Linked DNA regions of Homo sapiens. The protein of the gene in region 5 purifies or fractionates together with the protein of the main gene of each other region. This does not show direct contact. Each region holds a gene or a part of one and is shown on either strand. Other genes may lie near its edges. The genes, in order: FAM234A, PCDH1, MELTF, GSTZ1, ICOS, KLC1 and ERLIN2.

Region 1 (4,133 bases), on a different chromosome or scaffold from region 5:
GCAGATCACCTGAGGTCGGGAGTTTGAGACCAGCCTGACCAACATGGAGAAACCCCATCTCTACTAAAAATACAAAAAAAAATTAGCCGGGCGTGGTGGTGCATGCCTGTAATCCCAGCTACTCGGGAGGCTGAGGCAGGAGAATCACTTGAACCTGGGAGGCAGAGGGTGCAGTGGCCAAGATCGTGCCATTCCACTCCAGCCTGGGCAACAAAAGCAAAATTCCGTCTCAAAAAAAAAAAAAAAAAAAAAAAGAGGTTACCATTCAGGGAAGCAGACTTCAGGGTCCAGCCCTGTGCTATTTTTACAACATTTTGTGAATCTATAAGTAGTCCAAAATAAAAAGTATAAAATAGAAAATCAAAAGAGAAAAGAAAACCGTTAGTAAGGGGGAGTGGGGTCAGAGGTTCATGTAAGTTTTAGAGGAAGAACCAGCTTCTCCACAGGCAGCTTGGTTTGTGCCTCAAAGCTACCTTAATATGAAGCTATTTTGTTCCAAAGGCAGGAGTCCTTTTAGTGTTTTGTTTATTTTTGGAAGAATATCAATAGTGGAGTTTTGTGGTAGCCTGAAGAAATACTGAAAGAAGAGCCAAACCCCTGGCATGTTACAATTCTCCATTACAAAATAATCACCAGCTTCCTCAAAACCATCCATTAAAATCATTTTCCGACCGGGCGCGGTGGCTCACGCCTGTAATCCCAGCACTTTGGGAGGCCAAGGCGGGTGGATCACAAGGTCAGGAGATCGAGACCATCCTAGCTAACACGGTGAAACCCCATCTCTACTAAAGATAGAAAAAATTAGCCGGGCGTGGTGGCGGGTGCCTGTAGTCCCAGCTACTCAGGAGGCTGAGGCAGGAGAATGGTGTGAACCTGGGAGGCGGAGGTTGCAGTGAGCCGAGATGGCACCACTGCACTCCAGCCTGGGTGACAGAGCAAGACTCCGACTCAAAAAAAAAAAAAATCATTTTCCTTTCCACTGTGGGGAAAAAACGGATATGCACAGCATTTATAACAATACTCCCCAAATACTTACCTGAGCAAATGCCAGAGTTTAAAAGGGGTCGTCTCCAAAGTCAGACAATGTGGTGACAATGAAAATGCCCCAAGGGGTGGGAACTCTTACTGCTATACAGCCTCTGCACATGCTTTCACACCGGCCTGGCCACAGAAAAGGGGTGTGTGTTTAACACGAATAAGGCCTGTCTTTGGAAAATTAAAAAGCTGGTCAGGAATTCCTTCACAGGATCTCCAGGTAAGACTTCCTTTTTGGAAACTTGACTGAGCCACCAGAAATAGGGGTAGTTATTAAAAGCCACAACGGCAAGGCAGCCAAAGCCAGGCAGTTCATGATTCAACCAGTTTGCAAATAAAGACACCATGAGACAGGTCCAAAGATTTGCTCATCAACAGCAAGAAGATACCAATGTTTTTCTCTACTGCGGTCATTAAAAATACCAGGAGCCGTAGCCAGAGCTTCAGGAACCTGACTGGCAGAGAAAATCCCCATGGACCCAGGTCAGAGAGACTTGAGCAGGGCACTGTCCTTGCTCTACTTTAGCATCCATACCATTGACCACAGAGAGTCAGGCCATGTGGCTATTTAAAAAAACAGAAAACAGAACTCAACAAGCTAATAACCAAAAATTTAACTTCATGGCCGGGCAGGGTGGTTCACGCCTATAATCCTAGTGCTTTGGGAGGCTGAGGCAGGAGGATGACTTGAGGCCAGGTGTTCGAGACCAGTCTGGGCAACATGGGGAGACCCCATCTCTACAAAAAGTAAAATAAAATTAGGTGTAGTGGCATGTGCTTGTAGTCCCAGCTACCTGGGAGGCTGAGGTGGGAGGTTAGCTTGAGCCCAAGAGGTTGAGGCTGCAGTGAGCTGTGATCATTATCACTACATTCCAGTTTGGGCAACAGAGTGAGACCTTGTTTCAAAAAAAAAAAAAAAAGTGAGGGCTCAGAAAGAAAAGAAAATTTGTCAATACAATACGTATTAATTAAGGTAAAAGACCTGACACGGGATGGGCGTGGTAGCTCACGCCTGTAATCCCAGCACTTTGGGAGGCTGAGGTGGGTGGATCGCAAGGTCAGGAGTTCGAGACCAATTTGGCCAACATGGTGAAACTCCATCTCTACTAAAAATACAAAAAATTAACCAGGCGTGGTGATGTGCATCAGTAATCCCAGCTACTCAGGAGGCTGAGGCAGGAGAATCGCTTGAACCCGGGGGGCAGAGGTTGCAGTGAGCTGAGATAGCGCCATTGCACTCCAGCCTGGACGACAGAGCGAGACTCTGTCTCAGAAAAAAAAAAAAAAAAGGAGCTGACACCAAGAATAACTTGAAGAAAGAAAGATAAACACAATACCTCATATATGGTTATTCAAACGGATTATTCCCCTGGCCTACAGAACTATCAGTAAGCCCGCGGTGACTCGTGCCTATAAACCCAGCATTTTGGGAGGCCGAGGTGGACAGATCACTGGAGGACAGGAGTTCAAGACCAGGCTGGCCAACATGGTGAAACCCCGACTCTACTAAAAATACAAAATTAGGTGGGTATGTTGGTGTCTGCCTATAGTCTCAGCTACTGGGAAGGCTGAAGCACGAGAATCACTTCAGCCTGGGAGGTAGGGGATGTGGTGAGCCAAGATCGTACTACTGCACTCCAGCCCGGGTGATAGACCAAGACTCTGTCTCAAAAAAAAGGACTATCGGTAAACCAGCTGTCCACTCTAGGCCACTGAGGCTGCCACACCTATCTGTCCTCCAGGGAGTCCACAGGCTACCCAGTCCTGAGTGGAAACTCTGATTAGGGGGAAGAACAAAACAATCCAGCAGTAGTTTGCACAGCTCATTAACATTTCGGCAGGGGTGGGGCAGGAATACCACAGTCCATGCAGAAAGGAAGTGACAGGTCTCTCCCTTTTCTCCAAGAGTTCTTTCTCTAAGAAGTTTACTGAGTCACAGAGAACAGAAAATAAAAACAAAAGTCTCATTCTAATTGCCTTTTTTTTTTTTTTTTTTGAGACGTTGTCTCGCTCTGTCGCCCAGGCTGGAGTGCAGTGGTGCAATCTTGGCTCACTGCAACCTCCGCCTCCTGGTTTCAAGCCTCAGCCTCCCCAGTAGCTGGGACTACAGGTGCCCGCCACCAAGCCCGGCTAATTTTTTGTATTTTTAGTAGAGATGGGGTTTCACTGTGTTAGCCAGGATGGTCTCGATCTGCTGACCTCGTGATCCGCCCGCCTCGGCCTCCCAAAGTGCTGGGATTACAGGCCTGAGCCACCGCGCCCGGCCTCTAATTTTTTTAATTGCAGAAATTTGATGAAAACTTTTTTTTTTTTGACACAGGGTCTTGCTCTGTTGCCCAGGCTGGAATGAAGTGGTGCAATCATGGCTCACTGCAGCCTTGAATCCCCGGGCTCAAGAGATCCTCCCGCCTCAGGCTCCCCAGTAGCTGGGAGCACAGGCATGCACCAGCTAATTTTTGTTCAGCTAATCTTTAAATTTTTTGTAGAAATGAGAGCCTCACTATGTTGCCCAGGCTCCTCTGTAACTCCTGGGTTCATGTGATCCTCCCACCTCTGCCTCCCGAAGTGCTAGAATGACAGGTGTGAACCACCGTGCCCAGCCTGAAGCAGACAGCTTTTTTTTTTTCTTTCTTTTTGTGTAGACCTCCTCTGCGGTCAAGATAAGTGTTTTAAGGCTAGGCACAGTAGCATACATTTGTAATCCCAGCAACTTCGGGAGGCTACAGCAGGAGGCAGGAAGATCACTCGAGCGCAGGAGTTCGAGACCAGCCTGGGCAACATGACAAAACCCTACCTCCACAAAAAAATACAAAAACTAGCCGGGTATGGTGGTATGTGCCTCTAGTCCCAGCTGTGCGAGAGACTGAGGTTCCCTTGAGCCTGGGAGGTGAGCGGAGATCACACCACTGCATTCCAGTCTAGGCAACAGGGCAAGACCCTGTCTCAAAAAAAAGAGAAGAAAACAGTGTTTTAAATGGATAAAATATTTAGTTAATATTTAGAGGAAAACTATGATTATAGATTAATGTTACTATCTAGTTTCACCAGTTAGAAACAGAAACTGAAAAGATTTTGTCAATGGATTAAAAATAATAAGC
Region 2 (4,133 bases), on a different chromosome or scaffold from region 5:
AAACTATCCCTGGTTGGGAAGATACTCTCATCTCAGGAGAGATTCTACCTGGATAAACGGTGATTCCTTTGTTCCAACTCAGCTCACCTGGCTAGCAGAGAAGGATCTACTTGACTAGGGCGGGAGTTTTACTTCTCAGAGGTTCCCCCAGCTTGAGTCTGCCTTAGGGGTCACGGGAAACTGTTCATATGCTATTTCACTGTCACCTAAGTAGCCTGATAGAGGAAAGTAATATCACCTGCTGGGGTGGGGTGGGAAAGACTCCCCTGGCTGAGTTTGGGGAGAAGGGGTCTCACTACAGTATTCTGGCAGTTTTTCCCCTAAGTGAAGGGAACTCTCACCTGGTTGGGTGGGCTCCCATTTCTAGTGGTGGGTCACCCTGACAGTTATACGGAGGGGGCCTCTCACCTGGATGACCGAGTGGCCTATGGGGCTATTCTCAGATAGTTCGGCCTCATAGGAGGGCCGCTCAAACTTGGGGGCGTTGTCATTGGTGTCAAGCACGGTGACACGCAGCAGGGCACTGCTGGCGCGTGGGGGGCTGCCGCCATCCTGCACCTTGATGGTGAGGTCATAGGAGTCCCAGCGCTCACGGTCCAGGTTGCCCATCACAATGAGCTGTGGTTGCTTCTCCTCCTGGTCCTCTGCCACCTGCAGCCCAAATAGCTCCTGGGCCTCAGGCCCAGCCTGCAGCTCATAGGATGCCACACCGTTGGGACCAGCATCACGGTCTGAAGCCAGCGGGATGGGGAAGAGTGAGCCGATGTTGGTGTTCTCAGGGATGGCCAGAGTGATGACTGGTGAGGCGAAGTTGGGTGTGTTGTCATTGATGTCTTGTACTTCTATCTGGCCCTCTAGCAGCCGGGGGCTGCCATTCTGCACGAGGTCTGTGATAGATACCTCAAACTCCAGGATGCAGGGATCACCAGGGAGCTGGTTCTGGCATTCACGGAGCCCCTCACGGTCGATGGAGGTCTCGGTGGTGAAAATGTCACCTGTCTTGCCATCCACGCGAAGGTACGGGGCACCCACCTCTAGCTTGTACAGGTGCCCCACATCTGGAAAACCATAGTCGGCTGCGAGGCTCCCAATGAGGGTGTTGGGTGGCTGTTCCTCCGGCACCTTGTACACTACCCGAGTGGCGTGGCCTGGGGATGGAGCCAGCAGGAGCAGCAGTGCTAGCAGCATGGAGGGCAGCAGTAGCCGTTGCCCCCCAGGGCCTGGGCTGTGCCTCAGGTGCTCCATCCTGGGAGGCCCCAGAATCAGGAGGGCTGCAAGGGGAAGAGGCAAAACAGAGGCCATGAGCTGGGAAGAAAAGCCTGGCCCTGAGCTGCCCAGAGCTGGCCCCATACTCACCCTCTCCCACTGACACACGATTCTCCACAAGAGCAGTCAGTCCCAGCACAGAACCCCGATTCCAGAAACTCAGATCCCTGAATCTCATCCACAGCTGGGTGTAGCAGCAGTGTCTGCCCCAGCTGGAGGAGCCAGTAAGAGGCCTGGCATGCCTAGAGCAGCTCCCGCCCATGGAACACCCTCACCCACCTGACGCTCCCTGGGCCCAAGCCCGGCTGCCCGCCCTCTTTCCTTCTTTTCCTCCTTGCTCTCTGCTCTGTGCTTCACCCAACACCTCCTTCTCACGAGCATCCTGCCTTAGTCACCGATGGTAATTACCTTGATACTGAGATAGGGAGAGAGAGCCAGTGGAAGGGTGAGACCTCGAGCATCCCCAACTGGAGCACCCCTCCCCACATGCATGGTAGGAAAGAGACACAAGTACGTCCTTACACACCCCAGACCCTGGGACCTTGACTTGTCACACTGGGCTCCATTAAGGTTGGCTGGAGGGAGAGGGGATGATGTCTCATTTCTCTTTGTTCTGAGATGCCAAGTCAGTGCATATGCATGAGGTATGACATCTCAAATCCTCTTTTTCTGACAATCACCCACGGTGCCCAGTATTCTCCACCCCCATAAAAGGCCAGCTTGAATTGGGCAAGGCTTGTGAAAATGGTTAGGGTTGAGGAGTAGGTGTTAGCCTTCCCGACTTTCCCCCAACACATATGCCCCAGAACGTGCACACAGGCCACAGAGCGTGCACACATGCCCCAGAGCATGCACACATGCCCCAGAGCATGCACACAGGAACATGCACAGTTGCTAGGGCTCCTCTCCTCTCCCTCCTGCTGCCATGGGCAGGTGCGTACAAGGGAACACAGGTCAAGATTGGGGTCAGAACTGTGGTCAGGGCTGACTAGCCCTGGAATTGGCATTGGGAGCTGCCCTGGCCTGTCCTTAGCAACAGGGAGCCCAGCAGGTCTAACTGGGACAGAGCTGCCGATGATAATGACACCAGCAGCCTTTCCCTGGCCACTCCCCCACCCCACACCCTCTGGTCTCTGGATGAACATCTGGCTCTTATTTGACATCCATCTCCGTATATCCAGCCCCTACTTCACACTTGCCTCTCCCAACCTCTGCCCTAGTCAACCACAAGCTGTACCCCATCACAACAATAACCCCCTTCTTCTGCCCATCTCCCCTGGCTTTGAGGTCGTGCATTTGCAGATCCCAGCTAGACCCAGCTACTGTCTCTGTCTTGAATGCCCCCTCCTCTCCAACAAAATCATGGCCAGTCCCTCCTTTATTCAAATCCAAAATCTTTGGATCAGCAGTTTCTTTGGAGGCTTCTGGTTCAGTCTCCTTTCCCCACTTCCTCACTTTTACCTGGAATACCTTCCCCACACCTGGAACACCCACCCCACATCAATCCCACTGAGGGCAGGCTCTGGCCCTCCAGGAAACCTTCACAGTCCTCTCCTGCCCACGGTGACCTCTCCTTCCTCCAACTCACAGCCACTTATTGTCTGCTCCAATCCCAAGGCAATGAATCATGGGGCTGACTGGGACACCGCCCGCCTGTGTTGTTCAGCTTCAGTATTGTGCACCTATTCCTGAGTTCTCTGCCTTTCCAGGCAAACACAAAGCACTACGAAGGAAGGGACAGTACTCTGTACACTCACTCATCCCCTGCCCCCTAACAATGCACCTTTGCACATCTGGGTACACTGTAGGGACTCAGTCATGCATTCAACAAATGTTTATTGGGCATTTACAATATGCCAGGCTCTGTCCTGGGCACTGGGATGCAGAAGTAAACAAGACTGGTCCAATCTGCCATGACAGTGCTTCTAACTCAATGACTATTTGTCCATTTTGTTTGGTTGCTTCTGTATACCATTTGGCGAATGTAAGGCAGCAGGGTGGAGAAGAGCGAGGGTTGTGGCATTAGACAGTCTGAGGCAAACCCAGCTGCTCACTTCCTGGCTGCATGACCTGAAGCAAAGATTTAGTGCCTCAGTTTCCTTACCTGTAAAATGGGGATAATACTACCTATTTCCTAGGGTGTTTGAGATACTGTGGGCTAAATGTGGGTACTCAACAAAGGACTCCTTCAAAGCATTTAGCACAATTGTAGTTGTGTACCTGTTTGGAAAATGTGTTAATTGTCTGTCTTTGCTCCAAGATGGTGAGCAGAAAGCAGGAGAGTTTCTACTTTGTTTGCTCCTACCTCCTCAGGGCTTAGCCCTGGACCTGGCACACAGTGGGCACTTGGCAGCTCTTGAATGACTGTTGTTATTTTGCTCTCTAGGCTTAGCCTTTCCTGGTACTTGCTGTGTGACCACTGCTCTTTTACTTGCTCACTTACCCGATTCCCCTACACCACTAAGAACTTCCTGGGGTAAAATGTAAGTCTTCTCTGTTTAGGGCACATAGTAGACTCTCAGCAAATGTTCACTGAATGCACAGAGTCTTTAGATAAATCAAACACATCCCCTCCTCTGTATGGCCTTCCCCAAGCACAGGCCCCTCCCTAAAGTGTGTGCGGCGTTATCAGATTGGTGTGAATGTTAATCTCTTTAAAGGAAGCAGGAATTTATCTGTACTCCATTTGGATCCACCCCCCACCCCCCCCCTCCACCTGCATGGACCTGGCACAAGGCTCATCTGACTACTTCAACCCCAACCCAAACACATCGTCAAAGGACCATCACCAGAGAACCTCATTTTCTTATGGGACTGTATCCTGCTGCCACCCTCCTCTGCATATACAATGTGGTATCACTGTGCAC
Region 3 (4,133 bases), on a different chromosome or scaffold from region 5:
CAGAGAGCCTCGCCATGCCCGAGGTTGAGCTGGGCTGGAGCTGGCAGCAGTGGGGACAGGTGGACTTACGGTTGGGGTCACAGAGCAGACCCTTCATGGCGTGCAGGTACTCATGGCCCAGCCACGCCTCATAGGTCTGTGTGGCGATGGGCACAAGCTCCGAGGTAGAGTCTTTGAAGAGTAGATCCTTCTGGCCATAGGCCTCAGAGCTGAACATCTGGAAGCTGCTGCCCTCGTGGCTGAACAGACGCTGTGTGTCAAGGGGTGTGGTACAGGGTGGTGAGGGTGCTGACAGGCCATATCCTTCCCTCCCACTTTGGCCCCTACCTCCTTCTTCCCCGACCTCAGACCAGGCACCCACCCTGAGGGCCAGGTGAGGCCTCCCTCTTCTGCGGCGCCTCCCCTGATCTGCGGCCTCCTTCCCCTGGGCCCTGTCAGTTCTGGGTCTACTCTGAGTTCATTTGGCCTCCTCACACTCAGCTGTTTGGACACATGGCTGTGGCCAGGCATGGGACGGTCCTGAGGACACGCCGTGGGGCTGGTGGTAGCAGCCTGGATAGGGCAAAACTAACTGAGCCTGGGGCACCAGCAGTCAGAAGTCTATTGCTGTCACAAGCGGCGGTTTTAGCCAAACCTTATTCGCCACATGTAATTAATGGTGTGCTTTGAAAGGCGCTGGTTTTGTTACTTGGTTTATTTGCTCATATGTTTTGGTTTTAGCTCTCAGAGACACAAGTCTCAGGAGCTTCTTCTGAGGGTGCCTGAATCCCTGGGTCCCCCTCCTCTGGGCCCCCCTCTCCTGGCCAGCCCTCCTTCTGGCCAGCCAGCATAGTCGGTTCCTCACTCTGACCTGGCCCGATGCTGGGGTCCGTCCCAAGGACAGTCTCTGGGTCCTGCCCCTCCTGGTCCCACCCTGCTGAGCGACCACAAGGCCCGGCACCATCTAGGAAGCTGTGCAGGTGGTTGGGGGACCCTGAGCCCACCTGGCCTTCGTTGAGCAGCCGGAAGATGAGGCCCCCATCTGTGTCGGCCCGGACCACCACGGCGTGAGCAGGCACCCGGGCCAGATGGCACTGCCTCCACTCGGTGACATCGGCCCGGCTACCATCCCGGCACAGCAGCTCGAAGTCCTGTGACAGCAGGGCCTGGCCCCAGGAGGGAAGCGTCTTCCCTGGGAAGCAGGAAGCCTGGGCTGAGCCAGCTCCGAAAGGGGTTGGGGCGGGTGGCGGGGAAGGCCCAGGAGAGGGAATCTGAGGGGTGGCTGGGTGTCATGGACATGAGAACCCAGCATTCAGAAGGTGGCAGAGCTTGGTGGCCGCACCCAACTCCAGGTACCTACACAGACTCTATCTCGTTACTCTCATTTTCTAGCTCTCACCAATTTCTATTGCTAAAGTGAATTGGAGGTATCTGACAGTAATACAATACTTATAAATAACTATTCAAGATAAAAAAAGTAAGAAAATAAGAAAGGCTGGCCGGGCGTGGTGGCTCACGCCTGTAATCCCAGCACTTTGGGAGGCCGAGGTGGGCGGATCACGAGGTCAGGAGATCAAGACCATCCTGGCTAACACGGTGAAACCCCATCTCTACTAAAAATACAAAAAATTAGCTGGGCGTGGTGGCGGGCGCCTGTAATCCCAGCTACTGGGGAGGCTGAGGCAGGAGAATGGTGTGAACCTGGGAGGCGGAGCTTGCAGTGAGCCGAGATCACGCCACTGCACTCCAGCCTGGGCGACAGAGCGAAACTCTGTCTCAAAAAAAAAGAAAGGCTTTGGGTGAGACAGATGAATGTACCAAGAGTCTAGGATGAGCTTGCGGCTGCCATGAGGCACTGCGTTTGGCTCTGAGCAGGGGGCAGGGGGCAGGGCTCCCGGAGCAGGGGCCACGGTGGAAACAAACCCCGAAGGAATCTACCCACCCCAGGACTAGAGAGGACGGGGGATCTCCCATAACTCCAACTATTCATATTGCGATGGATTTCTTTCAAGTCCTTTTTTCTATTTTATTTCCTGTCTTTTGACCTCACCCCCCCTTTTTCTTTTTGAGACGGAGTCTGGCCCTTTCGCCCAGGCTGGAGTGCAGTGGCACGATCTCGGCTCACTGCAACCTCCACCTTCCGGGTTCACGCCATTCTCCTGCCTCAGCCTCCCGAGTAGCTGGGACCACAGGTGCCCGCCACCACGCCCGGCTAATTTTTTGTATTTTTTTTTATTAGAGATGGGGTTTTACTGTGTTAGCCAGGATGGTCTTGATCTCCTGACCTCGTGATCCACCCACCTCGGCCTCCCAAAGTGCTGGGATTACAGGCGTGAGCCTCCACACCTGGCCTTTTTTCTCTTTTTGAGATGGAGTCTTACTCTGTCGCTCAGGCTGGAGTGCAGTGGCATGATCTTGGCTCACTGCAACCTCCGCCTCCCAGGTTCAAGTTATTCTTCTGCCTCAGCCTCCCGAGTAGCTCAGATTACAGGTGTGCACCAAGATGCCTGGCTAATTTTTGTATTTTTCCTAGAGATGGGGTTTCACCATGTTGGCCAGGCCGGTCTTGAACCCCTGACCTCATGATCTGCCAGCCTCGGCCTCCCAAAGTGCTGGGATTACAGGCGTGAGGCACCGTGCCCAGCCTCCTTTTGACCGCTTTTAACCTGGTTAAGGACATAGTTGACAGGCAATTTTGCATCCTATTTGGTAGAGTATTTTTCCACAGTATTGGAAACTTTCCATAAGTTCATTTGTTTCTCGATAGAAAAGAAAATTTGCAAGAGTAACTATTAACACCAAACAGGGATATTGAGAAGACGAATATTAAGGACTATAATTAAACCACAGATGGTCCCACATAACAATATTTTTATGACCTTAAGACAAGGAGGAAAAAAACCTCTACAAGGAAATAGGAAGAAAAAAGATAATTTGTATGGTCATGAAAGCTTTCACTGCAAAGCTATTTTAAAACAAAACCAAACACCCGCACCAGAGTGATCGTTTAGGAAAACTCCCTAAAGGTCATTGTTAATGGCCACATGGTAGTTTACAGCACTGTTAATGATTCAGTGTAGTCCTACCCCCGCTTCCCAACTTTCCTGTTTTTCGGCGGCTGCAAAACCTTTGGTTAGAGCTCTGGGGCATCATTTGCCTTCCCACAGACAAAGGCATCATTTAGGTGCTTCCATCAGCCACTCCCGCTTCTCCTCAGCCAAGAACAATGAAAGTCCTGTCACTTCCCTGCTTTAGACATTTATGCCACTTCTACCCCTTGGCTCTTACCAATCTTTCTGTATAAAGTCACTTAAAAAATGACTCCCTTAGATTGCCTCAGATTACCATCAACACTTTGAAAAAGCTGCCAGGTGCACGCCTGTCATCCCAGCTACTCAGGAGGCTGAGATGCGAGGATCAGTTGAGGCTGGGGGTTTGAGACCAGCCTGGGCAACATGGTGAGACCCCCATCTCAAAAAAAACCCCAAGTTTGAAAGAGCTGATTCTTAACCCAACATATCCCTACTCTTTGCCCGTTTTCCAAATTCTCCTTTGTCAGACTCGTCCTGGGGCCTGTGAACGGGAGCCCATTTCCAGGCTTGCCCAGCACTAGAGCGCATCGTCCTACGTGCTTCCTCGTGTGCAGGGCACTCGCCTTCTTCCTCCTCAGATCTGGTCCATGTTTGCCTTCGTGATGGACTTTCTGATTTAAAAGGCAATGGTTAATAACAGCAAAGAATGACAATGATTTAAAAAAAAAACCCAATCATCAGACGTCCTGGGAGACGCAAAACTGCAGACAGAACGGTGTGTTTGCTGCTTGCTGGCAGGTGCGGGGAGATAACTAGCAGGGGCCTGAGGAACTCCTGGGCTGAAGGGTCTGCCCCATCAAGATCTCGATTGTGGTGGTGGTTATACAACTGCATGTATTTGGCAAAACTCATAGAACTATCCTTCAAAAAGAACAAATTTTGCTGCATGTAAATTATATCTCAATTTAAAAAAAGAAACAATCTTCAGGCAAATCTAAATTGAGGGACATTCTATAAAATAACCGGCCTGATGCTTCAAAATGCCAATGTCATAAAAACAAAGACTGAGAAACTGTTCCAAGATAAAGGAAAGTAAAGAGATCTAACAACTAAACCCCATGC
Region 4 (4,133 bases), on a different chromosome or scaffold from region 5:
GCCAACGGGGCAGGATTTGGGAGCTAGGCCCTCAGCTCAGTGGGTGTATCTGGCTGCCGGCAGGGGTGAGACACCTGGAAGGCCTCCAAGACCAGCAGCCTCTTGTTGATGGAGCTGATGGTAGGGTAGGGGGTGAGATCCACCTTGAATCTGTAGTAGAGAAACACCTGCTAAGCTAAGGTTTTCAGGGACACAGGGAGACTGCCCTGATGCAGCAGGGGGAGCAGAGAGGCAGGGCTGGATGAGGTCGAGGGAGCTGTCCAGGGAAGGACGATGGGGCAGCCCTTATTCACAGGGGATGGGTAGGTCTTGTGCAGTATCATTTGGCATCTGTTACCTACTGTTCCTATTTCTTTGTGAACCTGCTATGTGTAAGGCCCAGTGCTAGGCATTTATATATACAGACTCTCTTCCCCCATGTTGTAAGCTTCTTGGGGGCAGGGAATGTGCCATACGTTTCCATATCCCTAACGCCTAGCATGATGCCTTCCAGAGAGGTGCTCATTTGTGCCCTACCAAAGGGTTCACGGAAGGATGCAGAGGTAGAGCTCACTACTGCTCACAGACACACCACATTTGAGGACATCAGGCAGGTGCTCTTGGGGGTCCACCAGGTGAGCCACCTCCTCTTAGGAGCTGGGGCTATCTATACAGGTTCATCTGGGCTGTGGTGGGCGTAGTAGGAGCACTGCCCCAATTTCTTCTGCCCTCTTCCAGGCAGAAGTGGCTATGTGGCCTGGCATGGTGGGCTCCTTGGCTGGTTGGCGAAGCGTCTGCATGAGATGCTATCTCGCCAGCTGAGTGGGGCCTGACTGTGGGCAGAGCCACGAGAAGGGAGGGTGGCGGGGCTCTCTCTTACCTTTCAGCATTTGCCACCTGAGGCACCAAGCACAGATCAGCCATGGTCACCTGAAAGAGGTCCCGGTGGGTTCCCATCAGGGTGCATACCCCAGAGTCAGTGGCTGGACTGGGTGTGTCCACTGCGACTCTACTGGGGGTACCAACAATCTGCTTCGGCTCTTTCACCCATCCCACCTCCAATTCTTGTCTGCCCTAGGCCTGCATGAGTCTGTCCCCCGGAGCTGAAGTGCCCTCCCAGGCCATGCTCCAGTTGCCCTGACAACCAACTCTGTGGGTTGAGAGGGCCAGAGAAGATGGATTGCCTTGACTGCGCAGACATCATCTAGCACAATCCCTCAACTGATGCTGGCCCGCCTCATCCTCTCACAGCCAGTCTTCTACCTTGAGTAACTCCCTCTTAAGACGGTTTAGTGGGAGTGAGCTGAGGAGTGCCCCATGGCACAGAGATCCCCCTGCAGACGCCTTCTCAGGAAGCTCTGAGCTTGAGGGAGGTCAGCATGAGGGAGGCAGCCACTGTGGCTGGGCCTGGGGAGGTCTGGGGACAGCTTACCTCGTCTCCTACACAGTATATGCCCGCTGTGCTCTGTAGGATCTGCTCCAGGGCTGTGGGGAGGCCACATAAACATCTTATTCTGGGCGCAGGGAGGGGACACAAAGCTTTCTGGGCCTTGGCCTCCATAGTTATGAAATGGGCGCCCAACTGAGTGACAGACTGGGCATGGCTGCTGGTGAGAATGTGGCAGCCAGGTCTCGAGAGAGCTGTTAGGGATGAGCTGCTGTTTCCTGAGGCTCCGCACAGACAATCACCATTTCCCCACTCGAGTGGACAAGCCCTGCCACTGGCCACGGTGACAGCTCTCACTCTGATGGCTGGCGCTGTGCTGGCCTTGGTTTCCCAGCTGGAGTAGGCAGTGAAGCTGAAGTTGGGCCATCCAGCTATGAAGGGCTGTGGGCTCAGGGACCGAGGTTCCCAGAAGTGCTGGAGCTAAGGTCTGGATGCCCACCCAGCCCATTGCCTCCCCAGTCCTGCCCTCATCCATGCAACTGTCAGGCCCAAAGCAGCCTGGGAGGCTGGTTCAGATACCCAGGCCCCTGTGTGCGAGGGCCATACCTCTAAGAGGCCACTGTGGGGCAGCTCACAGAGGTGAGGACTCACCGTTAAAGCCACAAGTGATGGCGTTCTGGGCCCAGGTCAGCTGCATCTCCTCTCCCACTTGCTTCAGGACAGACAGGTTCTGTGCAGCCCAAAGAAAATCTGTGATTGCGCTGACAGCTGGGTGGGGGCTACCCCTTCGCCAAACCCCCTCAGGGAAGTTCACTTCCCATCTGCCCCTGGCTGGATGTCTATCCCTTCTCCCCCAGGCTCCATGAGCCCCTTCCTTCAACCAAGGGCCCTGAGGTTGGAGGGAGGTAGCCATCCCAGCAGCCACCTTTGCAGGCTGCCCCAGTGGCCTCAAAAAGCCACGTGATTCTGTCAGAGATGTGCAAGAATCCCTATTCATGTGACACAGGACGCGGCCATGGCTGTGGCAGGTGTGCCCACAACTCGAGGCCTGTCTCCCTCACTTCTCCCTTGCATGGTCCCTTGTGAGGAGAGGGAGTGTGAAAGAGGGTGGGGCTGGGATGAGGGAGGTCCACAAGACCGGCTTCCAGAGATTTCCAGCCTGGCTCCATCTTGGCACCCCTGGAGCCATTTTCCCTCTGTTTCCTCATTATAAAATGGAGATGTCTGTCTGCTCCAACATCCTTTGTTAAAGCGACATGCGGGTAGAGGGCATAGGCATGCAGGGATTCTGACTTAGTCCCCACTTTGTTATGACCTACCTGTGGGACTCCTAAGTCACTCCACCTTTCTGGGGCTATTTCCTCATTCAGAGTAGAAGCTGGCACAGATGAACTGTTTTTAATACTTAGTTGTCTGTTTTAACAGTGACACTTAAAAAATAAAATCCTACAAGTATCCCAGTATATGACTGAGATAGCACAGATGAAACGGAAGCTGCTCTGGTTAAAGGCAGGAGGCCTGGACTGGGGCCTGCTCAGTCTCTCCCCTGCCATTCTGGCCCTTTCCCCACCCCAAGCACCTGTACATGCGTCCTTGGAAACTAGAGCTTCTCGGAACGCAGCGGGGGACCCGCTGGGGGGCTGAATTCTGAGATTGCGATCTTCACCCCCTTCTTTCACATGGTCCAGGTCAGAGGCCCTGAGAATCCCCCTCCCTCCCTTGACACCCCCGCCCCCACACTGGGCAGCTCACAGCCAATGTGTGAGTGTAAGAGTGTGTCAGGTGTGCAAGGGTGCAAGTGTACAAGTGCCACACCTGCAGGGGCTGGATGCCACCAGCGATGAGGTCAGAAATCATACGCACGCTGGCCCTCTTCTTTGGGTCCTGAGGCAGAAGTCGCGGAGTGGGACGCATCTCCTCTAGATACTCAATGATGGCCAGCTGTCCAGAGGGGAGCAGTGAGGCAGGGAGAGGGCCCAGGACCCCTGGACCAGAGGGGACAGGGCCAGCAAACTCCTCCTTCTCCTCTTCCAGCACCATCACTACACCTCTTCCCCCCTGCTTCTGCTCAGCTCAAGCCCTATAAGCCTTTTTGGACCTTATCATGCAGAACTTGGTTCTCCATGTGCTTGAATCTTCCCTTATTTTCCTAAATAACCTCGCACCCTCCCCACGAGTCTTGTATTGAGCCTCTCCTATGTGCTAGGCACCTTGACTGTACACAGGCGAGGAAGAGATGTCAGGCGCTCTCATTCAGGGCACTGCTCTCATGAGGGCCCTCCCCCAGGCCCTGCACTCACTGACTGGTGAATGGTGATTCCATCAATCTTCAGGGTTGGCACCTGCTTCATAGGATTCAGTGCCTGGAAGTCCTTAGAAAACTGTGGAGACAAGGCCCTGGTGGGCTGGGTGGCCTGGCCTGAGTTGGCCAGAGGAAAGCCAAGCAAGCAGGAGAACCCCAGGCCTGCCACCCACCCCCATCTCCCTTCCCTGGGAAGGCCCTAAATCCTAGGCCCAGGGTAATCCCTGGGGGATCCATGCAGTCTCCCAAAGCCCAGCTGCTGCTGAGCCATAGGCTTCATCCTAACAGCCTGGCTATGGGCTTTCCCTGCATCTCACACCGTGGCCACCAAGGCAGCTCCTACCCTAGTCAGCCATCCAGAGGGCCCAGTATGGGGTGGGGACCCACTAGCCACCCACCCTCCCAGGGTCAGGCACTGGAGAGCCCAGGCTAGGGTACACAGTCTGGACCTGGGCCCTTCCCAGG
Region 5 (4,133 bases):
GCCCCACCCACCACCAGACCCTCTCTATACTATTACAGCTGATGCTTTCTGGAAAGCGCCACCTCCTGGCAGGAGGCCAACCAGCACAAAAATAGAGCATTAAACCACCAAAGCTAAAGGCCCTCATGGAGTCCATTGCACCCTTCGCCACCTCCACCAGAACAGCACTGGTATCCATGGCTGAGAGACCCATAGATGGTTCACATCACAGGAATCTGTGCAGACAACCCCCAATACCAGCCCAGAGCCGGGTAGATTTGCTGGGTGGCTAGACCCAGAAGAGAGACAACAATCACTGCAGTTTGGCTCACTGGAAGCCACATACATAGGAAAAGGGGAAAGTATGATATCAAGGGAACACTCCATGGGACAAAAAAAAAATCTGAAGAACAGCCTTCAGCCCTAGACCTCCCCTCTGACAGCACCTACCCAAATGAGAAGGAACCAGAAAACCAACTCTGGTAATATGACAAAACAAGGCTCTTCAACACCCCCAAAAAATCACACTAGTTCACCAGCAATGGATCCAAACCAAGAAGAAATTCTTCATCTACCTGAAAAAGAATTCAGGAGGTTAGTTATTAAGCTAATCGGGGAGGGACCAGAGAAAGGTGAAGCCCAATGCAAGGAAATGCAAAAAATGATACAAGAAGTGAAGGCAGAAATATTCAAGGAAATAGATAGCTTAAAGAAAAAACAATAAAAATTTCAGGAAACTTTGGACACAATTTTAGAAAGGTGAAATGCTCTGGAAAGTCTCAGCAATAGAATTGAACAACTAGAAGAAAGAAATTCAGAGCTTGAAGACAAGGTCTTCGAATTAACCCAGTCCAACAAAAACAAAGAAAAAAGAATAAGATAATTTGACACCAGGGTACACACACTTACTTAATCTCTTCACCTAATAATCTAGTCCAATCCTCTCATTGTACAGAAACTAAAGCATCAGAGCTAAAGAGATTTGCTACGAAATAAAAAAACAAAAAGAAGCTTTTAACATTAAGCTAGATATGAAAATGAATTTCAGGTATTTATTTTCCTTCTAGGTATATTGGATATATTATCACCTTAATACTTAAAGTAGTATTCACATTGGTGCCACATATGTGTTCTGTGATTGAAAGGGTTATTATATATCAAAAAATTATTTTAAAGTGACTTAGATATGAAATTACATTGTACATAACACACTCATTTCCCTAGACATTTTCATTCATCAGCCATCATGTATTAAGCTGGGCTGTCATTGTACCTGGGTTCTTCTCTGATGAAGTCTAAATTCTTAATGATTTTCCCATCACTTATCTGCCTGTAGAAATGTACAGAAATGGATTCACATATAGAAGTAAATTTCATCATAATTAAATAAGTGCAAATAGGCACATCTATGAGATTTTTGCATTAGTCCTAGATAGTGCAAAGTAAACAGAACTTTAACTGTGAGTGCAGTAGACAGCTTGTTGTTGTTATTGTTGTTTTTGCATGTACAGATTCTTTGTTGCAAAGTCCTAGAAGAACACAAATACAGGCTGTAAAAAAAATCTATTTATCAAATTCAAAAAAGTTACCTTTAAATGATCATTAATTGCTTATTGAAAGTGCTGTGTCTGTGTCAACATGACTCAAATAAACAGATCCTAACAACACTCGTGGTCAACTGGATGGAAACTCCTGGTCTATCACCCTATTTGGGGACAACGTGTTTCTTTTTTTTCCTCAAGCAAAGTAGATACAAGCATCATTATGTTATACATGAACCAGAAGGAAGTTCATATCCCCAGTTTCTGACTCTCTAAACTTGCAAATCTTTACCTGTTTTGGTCAACCTTACAGGCCAAACTATTGAAAAAAAAAATCATTTCTTGACTAACACTTTCAATTTGTGTGACATATCCCCTACATACTTAAGTTCCACTTTCCAAAATATAATTGTGAATTTTTATAAGGTTTCAAATGCCATGTTTTTTTCACTTTGAATGACCAAAAAGTGCCATTTGACAGACCTAGTTTATTAGAACAGCAGTAGTACTGAGATGCCATTTACAGAGAAATTGTGATCTTTTCTTCAGTTATTGCAAGCTACAAATGATTTTAAAACTCATTTTTAAAAATTTGCAAAGCCCAGTAAGTCATTTTGCATATAAAACTCAATATTCTTAGAGTAGGGAAGCAGTATATGTTGTAGATTTTGCTGTTTACAACTGTGAATACTGGGATGAATTTTTTTAAGCCAAATAATGCTATGAATCTTACAGTGAGTAAATATAAGAATTTCAGTCCCCCCTACATGCCTGCATTTTGTTTCTACCAAGAAATGGGAATATGCTACTAGTAACTTAAAACTGAAATATCCATTTCATCTGAAGGAGTTGTGGTTAACAAGCAACAGCAAGTTGTGAAAGCCATTTTGTTCACAAATGATGAAAAAATAAGGGACTCAAGATCTTACATAAGAATAAGAGACATTTCTAGAAAGAGTGGGGAAAAACAGCATAAGGTATGATTAAACAAATACTAGGAAAAAAATGACTGAAATGAAGAATAAAGCTTGAGTCTAGAGATTGAAAACTTTCACCCAGTCTTAAAAAAAATAATAATAAATTAATAGAACAGCGGGGCGCGGTGGCTCACGCCTGTAATCCCAGCACTTTGGGAGGCGGAGGCGGAGGCGGAGGTGGGCGGATCACGAGGTCAGGAAATTGAGACCATCCTGGCTAACACGGTGAAACCCCGTCTCTACGAAAAATACAAAAAAATTAGCCAGGCGTGGTGGCGGGTGCCTGTAGTCTCACCTACTTGGGAGGCTGAGGCAGGAGAATCGCTTCAACCCGGGAGGTGGAGGTTGCAGTAAGCCGAGATTGCGCCACTGCACTCCAGCCTGGGCGACAGAGTGAGACTCCGCCTCAAAAAAAAAATTAATAGAAACACACAGAAAGAGAAACAGAGGGAGAGAGTTACACATATCCTGGAGGAATTCCTGAATTCCAATACTGAAGTAAATAGCTTTCAAGATTATGAAATTCTAGAGTTTTTTTTTTTTTTACAAAGGAATGAGAGTTAGACTACCATCAAACTCTTCACCCACAACCCTAGAAGCCAGCAGACAGTGGAGGAATATCTGCAACCACTAAGAAGAAAGGCTGCCATCCAGGACTCCTATTCCCAGGAAAGATATCAGTCACTCATCAAGGTAAAAGGAAGACACCCTTACCTGTACTGGAATTCAGAGAGTTGGGGGTATTTAACGAAAATAAGAGAAGTCTTCTGATCATTAGATTAGAACAGAGATCACAAGACAGGAGCAGATGTCCAGAATGATGTTGTCATTGAACGTATGTGATGTAAGTGTTAAGAAAGGATTCTTGAAACAGAAGAGAAATACTGTAAGAGGAAACCTAGCAATGATCTGCAACTGTAAGTTTTAAATTATTTCCACAAAACCCACGTATGGAGCAGGGTGCACTGTCTGGGGGAAGTGTGAGAGTGGGAAAGGAAGAACATTCTTAAGTTCTCATATCAGTGCAGGGGATGGGGACTAGGCACATCAGACAAAGGCATTTTCATTATTTTCATACAATGATAAACAAGTAGACATTCAATTAAGATTCTTTGAACATGTCAATTACTTAGTAAATTAAGAACTGTAGTCGACCTTCCAAATTAACCGGAGGCAAAGAGGAGAGTCAAAAGAAATTTCATCACACCAACAAAAATAAAAGAGAAAAAGAGGATACAACAAAGAAAAATAAGTAGTAAATAAACATAGAAATAAAATCAAGTAGAGGCTTATGCTGACTGGGAATGGCCTGAATTCATCTATCAAAAGAAAAAATTGACAACTGGGATTTTTGTTAAATCTAACAAGAACACTCTGGAAGGGGGTGCTGTCAGGAGATGACATTTACTCAGTCGTGGAGAGGCTAAGAGGGGCTCCAAGGTCAGTCATCTTCACAGACTTCTCTCAGACGCTGGAGACACTGAGGGGCTCTTTTCCCAAGTGGAATTCAGGAGTCACTAATGGAATGCCTCAGTGACAAAGGAAGGCTCAAAGTGGCCTTGAGGGCTATCCTCCCAGCTTCCTCACAGAACACATCATAATACATGCACGTTTATTAGACACCCTCTGCCATCAG
Region 6 (4,133 bases), on a different chromosome or scaffold from region 5:
TTACAGGTGTGAGCCATTGCACCTGGGCTGAAACCAGTATTTTATGTAGCAAAGAAATGATCAGTAATATACTCAAGACGAGAGTATTTGGGAAGATTTAAGTGTCAAATTTCAGGGCATAGAATAAAAGTGACAAGCACATTAAGATTGCAAATACTGGTCTTAAATGTCTGTTGGGAACCAACTGAATGGCAGGTACTGTGCTGAGTAGTCAGCGATACCTTGATAAAAGAGCCACTGTTGGCCGGGCGTGGTCATGCCTGTAATCTTAACTCTTTGGGAGGCTGAGGCTGCAGATCGCCCCTAGCTCTTTGGGAGGCCGAGGCAGGTGGATCACCTGAGGTCAGGAGTTTAAGACCAGCCTGGCCAACATGGTGAAACCCCGTCCCTACCAAAAATACAAAAATTAGCCAGGTGTGGTGGTGCACACCTGTAATTCCAGCTACTCATGAGGCTGAGGAAGGAGAATCGCTTGAACCGGGAAGTGGAGGTTGTAGTGAGCCGAGATCACGTCACTGCAGTCCAGCCAGACTCCGTCTCAAAACAAACAAAAAGAGCCGCTGTCAGCCGTGCAGTGGCTCACTCCTGTAATCCCAGCACTTTGGGAGGCCAAGATGGACCGATCACCTGAGGTCAGGAGTTTGAGACCCGCCTGGACAACATGGTGAAACCCTGTCTCTACTAAAAATACAAAAAAAACCAAAACCGGGTGTGGTGGCGGGTGCCTCTAATCGCAGCTACTCAGAAGGCTGAGGCTGGAGAATCGCTTGAACTGGGGAGGCAGAGGTTGCAGTGAGCCGAGATCACGCCATTGCACTCCAGCCTGGGCAACAAGAGCAAAACTCTGCCTCAAAAAAAATAAAACCAAAAAACAAAAAAACTCTGTCCTCTAGGAGCTCACAGGCTGGCATGGGCAGGTACCACAGACCAGGTTAAAGGCTGTGGAGTGCACTGAGGAGGCGATTCTTCACAAAAGAAAAGTACCAATCAGCCAGTGTCAGGGGGTCAGGGGTGGGATTGGGATTGGGGTTCCTGCTTGGAGGAAATAAATCCTGAGGTTGTGCTGCTGTAAAGGGGCATGTTGGGAAGGGGACATGGGAGTGAGTGTGGAAAGACGAGGTTAGGAAAGGCCTTGAATGACTTCTTAGAAGTCTGCTTTCATTCTGAGGTTTACAAAGGAGGGTTGGAAGATTTTTTTTTTTTTTGAGATGGAGTCTTGCTCTGTCACCCAGGCTGGAACGCAGTGGCACGACCTCTGCTCACTGCAGCCTCTACCTCCCAGGTTCAAGTGATTCTCCTGCCTCAGCCTCCCGAGTAGCTGGGACTACAGGTGCGTGCCACCACATCCGGCTAATTTTTTGTATTTTTAGTAGAGTCGGGGTTTCACCACGTTAGCCAGGATGGTCTCCATCTCCTGACCTCGTGATCCGCCCGCCTTGGCCTCTCAAAGTGCTGGGATTACAGGCGTGAGCCACCGCGCCTGGCCGGAGGGTTGGAAGATTCTGAGGAGCCAGTTGCCACTTTAGAAAGAGCATAGGCAGTGGTGGGGCAGGTGCTGTGAACTGGGATGAGGTTAATTAGGAAGCCATTAACCCCAACTCGGCAAGCCTCAGGATTAGGGCAGTGACAGAAGGAACAGAGAAGCTAGGTGGGGGCAGGGGCTGGGCTGTAAGGGTTATAGTGGAGCTGATTTGGGGCTGACTGGATTGGGGTAAATGAGGAGCTGCAGGGAGGACTCCCCAGAATGATCCTGTGAAAACCTGAGTCACTCCTCTGTTAAAGCTTTTGTCAGTGTCCTCTGAGCACCCCACCCTGTCTCTTTTCATCTTCCTGCTCTGGCCCTACTCAAGCACTTCCAGGTGCATCTGGAGTTCTGAACCAAACCCATTCTTGTAGTGATTAGCATTTCTTCACTTCCCCACATACTCCTTAGCCTCTGCCCTGATTTTTCTCCTTAGCACACCTCACTATCTTAAATGCTGTATTATTATTATTTTTTTTTTATTATTACTTTTTGAGACGGAGTCTCGCTCTGTCACCCAGGATGGAGTGCAGTGGCATGATCTCAGCTCACTGCATCCTCTGCCTCCCGGGTTCAAGCCATTCTCCTGCCTCAGCCTCCCAAGTAGTTGGGACTACAGGCATGTGCCACCACACCTAGCTAATTTTTGTATTTTTAGTAGAGACAGGATTTCACCATGTTGGCCAGGCTGGTCTCGAACTCTTGACCTTAAGTGATCCACCTGCCTCAGCCTCCCAAAGTGCTGGGATTACAGGCCTGAGCCACCGTGCCTGGCCAATACTGTATTATTTTAATCATTTTAAAATTTTTATTGTTTGTCTCCACTTAACATTCATAACCTCCACAAGGATGGGGAGTTTTGTCTCTTGTATTCAGTGTCGGTGCTTGGCGTGTAATAGGAACTTAGTAAATGTTTGTTGAAGGAATGCATCTAGAATGATCCTCATCTCTAATTTGGGTGATTCACTGGCTGGTGACACTCATCCAAGGAGGGAAAATGGGAGAAGGATGAGATTATGAGTTTGTTTTTGGACATGTTAAATCTGAAGTGCTTGTGGGGCAGCCAAGTGGACTAGTGGGCAGTTAGAGATACATCTTTGGAGCTCAAGACAGAGGCTGAGGCTGGAGGTAAAGATTCCAGAGACTGCATCATATCGTTGAGCCAGTCGGGTGTGATGTCCATCTGGTAGAGATGGGGAGTGGGTCTAAGAGGAGAGGGTCCTGGGAAACCAAGAGAAGAGGAGGGAGGAGATCAGTAGCAAATTGGCTAAGAAGTCAGTGATGGGTTGGACTGAGAAGTCTCTATGGATTTTGCTTCTAGGAGGTTACTAATGACCTTTAACTTTTTTTTTTTTAAATATAGTTTATGTAGAGACGGGGGTCTCACTGTGTTTCCCAGGCTGGTCTCGAATTCCTGGGCTCAAGCCATCTGCCTGCCGTGGCCTCCCAAAGTGTCGGGATTACAGGTTTGAGCCACTGCACCCGGCCTGTTGCCTGTTTCCTGAGAATATTACCTCTTAAGGATGGAGGCTATTTCGAGATGATCTTCATTCGTTCTCCCAAGGCATCCTTTGTGGCGTTGTACTCTGTAGCCTCCTAGTTAGTATACTCATGGATCAGAAATGAATTATGATTTTTTTTTAGTTTTAACTAATTTTTGGAGGCAGATGAAAGCAGTTTGCATATATGCTTTTTGAATTTGAAAAGTGCTATCTGAACTTAAAGCAACGGATATGGAGCAAACATGTTAAGCTGAGTTACGTGCATACGTGAACTGAGTTACTTCCTTGGTTCTAAAATATCTGTTACCTTCATTTAAACCATAGATTGTTCCCTGACTTCAGTTGCATAACATAAATTTATGTTCAGGCTTCTCTGAAGTTCACTATGCTGCTACTAAAACTGATCAGAGTGATGTTTGCACTGTTCCAGAGAAAATAGGTACTGTAAACCCTGCGGATGTCATATGTGTCTGTAGTTTCAGTTACTCCGAAGGCTGAGGTGGGAGAATCAGTTGAGCCCAGGAGTTCAAACTAGCTTGGGCAATATAGTGAGACCTTGTTTCTTAAAAAAATAAAAGGCTGTGCTTGGTGGCTAATGTCTGTAATCCCAGCACTTTGGGAGGCTGAGGAGGGCGGATCACCTGAGGTCAGGAGTTTGAGACCAGCCTGGCCAACATGGGTGAAACCTTGTCTCTACTAAAAATATAAAATTAGCCGCGTGTGGTAGTATGCTTCTGTAGTCCCGGGTATTTGGGAAGCTGAGGTAGGAGAATCACTTGAACCCGGGAGGCGGAGGTTGCAGTGAGCCAGATCGAGCCACGGCACTCCAGCCTGGGCGACAGAGTGAGACTCCCATCTCAAAAAGAAAAAAAAAAAGTAAAATAGGTACTGTTACTGAGATTCTACTGTTGAGGAATTTGAGGGTGAGAGAGGGGAAGTTTCAGAAACCAAAGTTACACAGCTGTGAAGTCAAGATTCTAACTCAGTTTTTTTGCTTCGCGGTATAAGCTTTGAATCACCTTGCAGTACTTAAAGCTGCAGCTTCAAGTGAATCATGATAATGCTGTTTAATCCTATCATTACTTTTTCTTGGGGAAACCTCGCGCCAC
Region 7 (3,277 bases), on a different chromosome or scaffold from region 5:
AAGTTTAATGAGTGAGAAACATTCAACCAAGGTGATTTTTCCTTGGAAAACCCTACAAAAACTGAATTTTATAAACAGTTACTTATTTTGATAGATGTTCCATTTATAAATAGCAGCCATTACTTCACTGTCTACAAAATTGCAGGCTGTCACATTTTACATGTTTAGAATTCAAATGTTTTAAGATTAGATTTTCTAGTAAGAGTTAAAATAAAAACAAAGTTACACAGACAGGTTAGTTGTCCTATGCAAATAAAACAGCTGATTTTCATGATTTTGCTATTTAGACAGATAAGAGACAACCATTGGATTGACACTAATGTGTAGGATAACATATTTTTTGTTTAAAGAGGAAATGATAGAAACTTGGGGTGGGGCAGCTGCAGCAGGACTTGACTCTACTGAGGCTCTTCTGTGCTCATGGGACAAGCTATCGCAGGATGTTAGTACCGGAGAGGCCCTCAAGTTAAGACCTGAGCAAAGTGTGCTATTCAGAGAAGCTGAGCTATCCCTGCTCCCGGTTCTACTGTGGTGAATTGGTGTTTTCTGAGGTCTAGGCAACAAGAGCTCAGAGTAGAAGGAGTAGACATTTTCGGGAAGTGGGATGCTGGGCATGTCATGTTGCTCTAACAAGTGATTAATAGCACGGAAATGGGAGGAAGATGAATGTATTTTAAATGGATACTCCCTATGCTAGTCTTGGGAAATGACCTTCTTTTCTTGAGACGGAGCCTTGCTCTATTGCCCAAGCTAGAGTGGGATGGCATGATCTTGGCTCACTGCAACCTCTGCCTCCCGAGTTCAAGCAATTCTCCTGCCTCAGCCTCCCAAGTAGCTGGGATTACAGGTGCCTGACACCATGCCCGGCTAATATTTCTATTTTTCGTAGAGATGGGGTTTCGCATGTTGGCCAGGGTGGTCTCGAACTCCTAACCTCAGGTGATCCGCCTGCCTTGGCCTCCCAAAGTGCTGGGATTACAGGTGTGAGCCACCGCGCCCGGCCAAGGGAAATGACCACCTTCTGAAAGGACTCTGGAGCACATTAAAATCCATCACTCCCAGGCACATTTTGTTGCCTGCAAAAAGTGTGCCCAGGACCAGAAGTCCCAGGAGTCAGAACAGAGAAGGGCAACTTTGAAGTAAGGGGAGCTAACACTGTATCTTTCTAGGCAGGCTCAATGCTCCCAAAACTTCTGAGCAAGCTGGCCCAAGCTCTGGGACCATTCCTTAAACCAGAAGTCTGGGCATGGGCCCAAAAAGAAGGCAGGGATTGCTGCCAGAAAGGACCATTCACAGATTCACCTAGGGAAGATGGGTATAGGAGTTGGCGGGGGGGGGGGGTGGGGGGTGGGGGGTGGGGGTCAGCTCATAACAGGGCCAAGTCCTAAGCCAGAGGTGGTCATGGAGGGCACCAATATGCTTGCAAGTTAACTCCAGATAGCTGCCCTCCACTTAATTCTAGACACAACCCATGGGCTATACAGGTTGGACACCCCCTACCCCTCAATCTCAGGATATAAGAAAAACCTTTTGTTCAAATTTGCTCTCCCCATCCTGAATCTCCCAAGGTGACTCAAAATGTTCTGACCTAGTAATGAAAAAGAAAACCCTTTGAATGGATTTTGGCACAGCCATTCCAACCTGGGGACTTGGGCATGAACTCTGATTTGCTCCACACAGCTGTCTCTGGAGACTGAATGTTCAGCCTGACTTGCGTTGCTGCCTGCAGCCCTGGATTTAAAAACACAGGCTACTTAGTGAATAGAGTCCTTTTATCACTAAGTCAGACCCACTCCCAGCACAAGCCACAGGCATTAAGACCAGGACATCTCTTGACTGATCGTTCCTCCTCCTCCACACATGGTGTCAGACCTCTTCACTACAGAATCTCTACAATAATAGAAAGACACTTCATCTCGAGGTGCACACATAACCTGTCAGGCAGGTCCTGCAGTGGCTAAGAGATAACAAGGATCCCACTCCAGCAGCTGTTAAGACACTTGAGTTGTTTGTCCCTGTCTTCTTGATGCTGAGTGGAACCAATGAACAGAATTTTTGAGAAGAAAAAAAAAAAACAAATCACAGCATAGGTGAAAAGATGCCGAAATAATTGAGTTGTGGTGATCAAGCTCTGACTCTAGAAATGTAGTCAGAAACCACCACTCTGAGCCCTAGGGCAAGGAGCAAAGTGTATACAAAATCTTGCAAAACCTAGCACCAGTACTTCCTTATGAGGGCTCAAGAAAGCACACCTCTAAAATAACTCACACACATGCAGACAAGAATGCCAGGAAGGTCAAATGTTCTCTGCAGCTGTTTCTTCACAGCTCTACTGGCAAACTCACAGGCACATATTTGCTCAGTTGCTGAGCCTCACCCACAGACATCTCCTACCTTGGAGGCAGAGGTGAGAACACTGGACTGCATTTTCCCAAGTAAGGGAAATCAAATGAGTTGGAGGTAACACTCTACATTTCTCCCTCTCCTTAATGACAGCATCCCTAATTAAGCCAGCCTCAAAGGATAAAATTAGTGTCTAGAGGTCAAAGGTCAAGCCCATGATTTACAAATCTTATTGGAAGTCATATAAACTGCTTACCTGAAATAAAACCCCCCATCATCAGTCCCCACCCTCCTTTCCCTAGAAAGGGAGTGGATTTAAGTTCATTTCTTCTTTTTCACCACAGTAACTGGAAGACAGTCAGAGAAGGTAGTCGGGGAGGGAGGAACATTCTGATTCATCTTAAAAAATAAAGATCTGCTTAAGTATCATTTGCAGTCATATCAAGTTTTTTTCAATTCTCCTTAGTGGCCGTCTCCAAGGGTTCATCTTCTAAGCCAAAGCTTAGCTTGTCAGCTAGCCCCTCAAACTGCTTGCTCACACTGCCCGCAGAGTCCATGAACATGTTAGGAATGTCTTTGCCAAAGTAAATCTTGCTGTTGGAAGCAATGGCCTTGTACTTCATCAGCTGCAGATATTCAGGGGTTAGCTTCAGCTGTTAAAAAAAAAAAAAGTATGGAAGACTTATGTTGAACCATATTAGAGAAGGAGGGGAGTGGTGCCCCTTCAATTTTCCTATATTTATGCCCCTACCTACTTTTTGTGGTCTCATTGTTACATTTCTGTAAGAGACAGTCATCTCAGATCTTGGAGCATAGGTGCAAAAGTTAAAAGTTTCCATGTTTAACACAAAATTAAACTAAACTTCTATCAAGGCATGTCCAAGGAGAAGGAAAGTACCTGCACCACACAGCAAAGGCATCCTCAGTTCTGCCC

What was found.
Region 1: the proteins of ICOS (region 5) and FAM234A purify together in Homo sapiens (affinity purification with mass spectrometry; one large-scale study listed by BioGRID and IntAct). This does not show direct contact.
Region 2: the proteins of ICOS (region 5) and PCDH1 purify together in Homo sapiens (affinity purification with mass spectrometry; one large-scale study listed by BioGRID and IntAct). This does not show direct contact.
Region 3: the proteins of ICOS (region 5) and MELTF purify together in Homo sapiens (affinity purification with mass spectrometry; one large-scale study listed by BioGRID and IntAct). This does not show direct contact.
Region 4: the proteins of ICOS (region 5) and GSTZ1 purify together in Homo sapiens (co-immunoprecipitation; one study listed by IntAct). This does not show direct contact.
Region 6: the proteins of ICOS (region 5) and KLC1 purify together in Homo sapiens (co-immunoprecipitation; one study listed by IntAct). This does not show direct contact.
Region 7: the proteins of ICOS (region 5) and ERLIN2 purify together in Homo sapiens (co-immunoprecipitation; one study listed by IntAct). This does not show direct contact.

The regions. Positions count from the first base shown.
Region 1 is NC_000016.10:240,804-244,936, reverse strand, and holds part of FAM234A (protein FAM234A), read right to left. Parts: intron 2,320-4,133; exon of another isoform or gene 1,037-2,319; intron 1-1,036.
Region 2 is NC_000005.10:141,868,161-141,872,293, forward strand, and holds part of PCDH1 (protocadherin-1 isoform 2 precursor), read right to left. Parts: intron 1,468-4,133; exon of another isoform or gene 1,445-1,467; coding exon of another isoform or gene 1,357-1,444; intron 1,272-1,356; coding exon 409-1,271; intron 319-408; exon of another isoform or gene 1-318. UniProt on the Homo sapiens protein: May be involved in cell-cell interaction processes and in cell adhesion.
Region 3 is NC_000003.12:197,016,120-197,020,252, forward strand, and holds part of MELTF (melanotransferrin isoform 1 preproprotein), read right to left. Parts: intron 3,683-4,133; coding exon of another isoform or gene 3,486-3,682; exon of another isoform or gene 2,834-3,485; intron 1,172-2,833; coding exon 984-1,171; intron 251-983; coding exon 70-250; intron 1-69. UniProt on the Homo sapiens protein: Involved in iron cellular uptake. Seems to be internalized and then recycled back to the cell membrane. Binds a single atom of iron per subunit. Could also bind zinc.
Region 4 is NC_000014.9:77,327,086-77,331,218, reverse strand, and holds part of GSTZ1 (maleylacetoacetate isomerase), read right to left. Parts: intron 3,748-4,133; coding exon 3,667-3,747; intron 3,308-3,666; coding exon 3,182-3,307; intron 2,097-3,181; coding exon 2,018-2,096; intron 1,465-2,017; coding exon 1,412-1,464; intron 910-1,411; coding exon 860-909; intron 151-859; coding exon 24-150; 3' UTR 1-23.
Region 5 is NC_000002.12:203,939,574-203,943,706, reverse strand, and holds part of ICOS (inducible T-cell costimulator precursor), read right to left. Parts: exon of another isoform or gene 3,273-4,133; coding exon of another isoform or gene 3,212-3,272; intron 3,191-3,211; exon of another isoform or gene 2,949-3,190; intron 1-2,948. UniProt on the Homo sapiens protein: Stimulatory receptor expressed in activated or antigen-experienced T-cells that plays an important role in the immune response.
Region 6 is NC_000014.9:103,631,871-103,636,003, forward strand, and holds part of KLC1 (kinesin light chain 1), read left to right. Parts: intron 1-4,133. UniProt on the Homo sapiens protein: Kinesin is a microtubule-associated force-producing protein that may play a role in organelle transport. The light chain may function in coupling of cargo to the heavy chain or in the modulation of its ATPase activity.
Region 7 is NC_000008.11:37,753,634-37,756,910, reverse strand, and holds part of ERLIN2 (erlin-2), read right to left. Parts: intron 2,997-3,277; coding exon 2,796-2,996; 3' UTR 1-2,795. UniProt on the Homo sapiens protein: Component of the ERLIN1/ERLIN2 complex which mediates the endoplasmic reticulum-associated degradation (ERAD) of inositol 1,4,5-trisphosphate receptors (IP3Rs) such as ITPR1.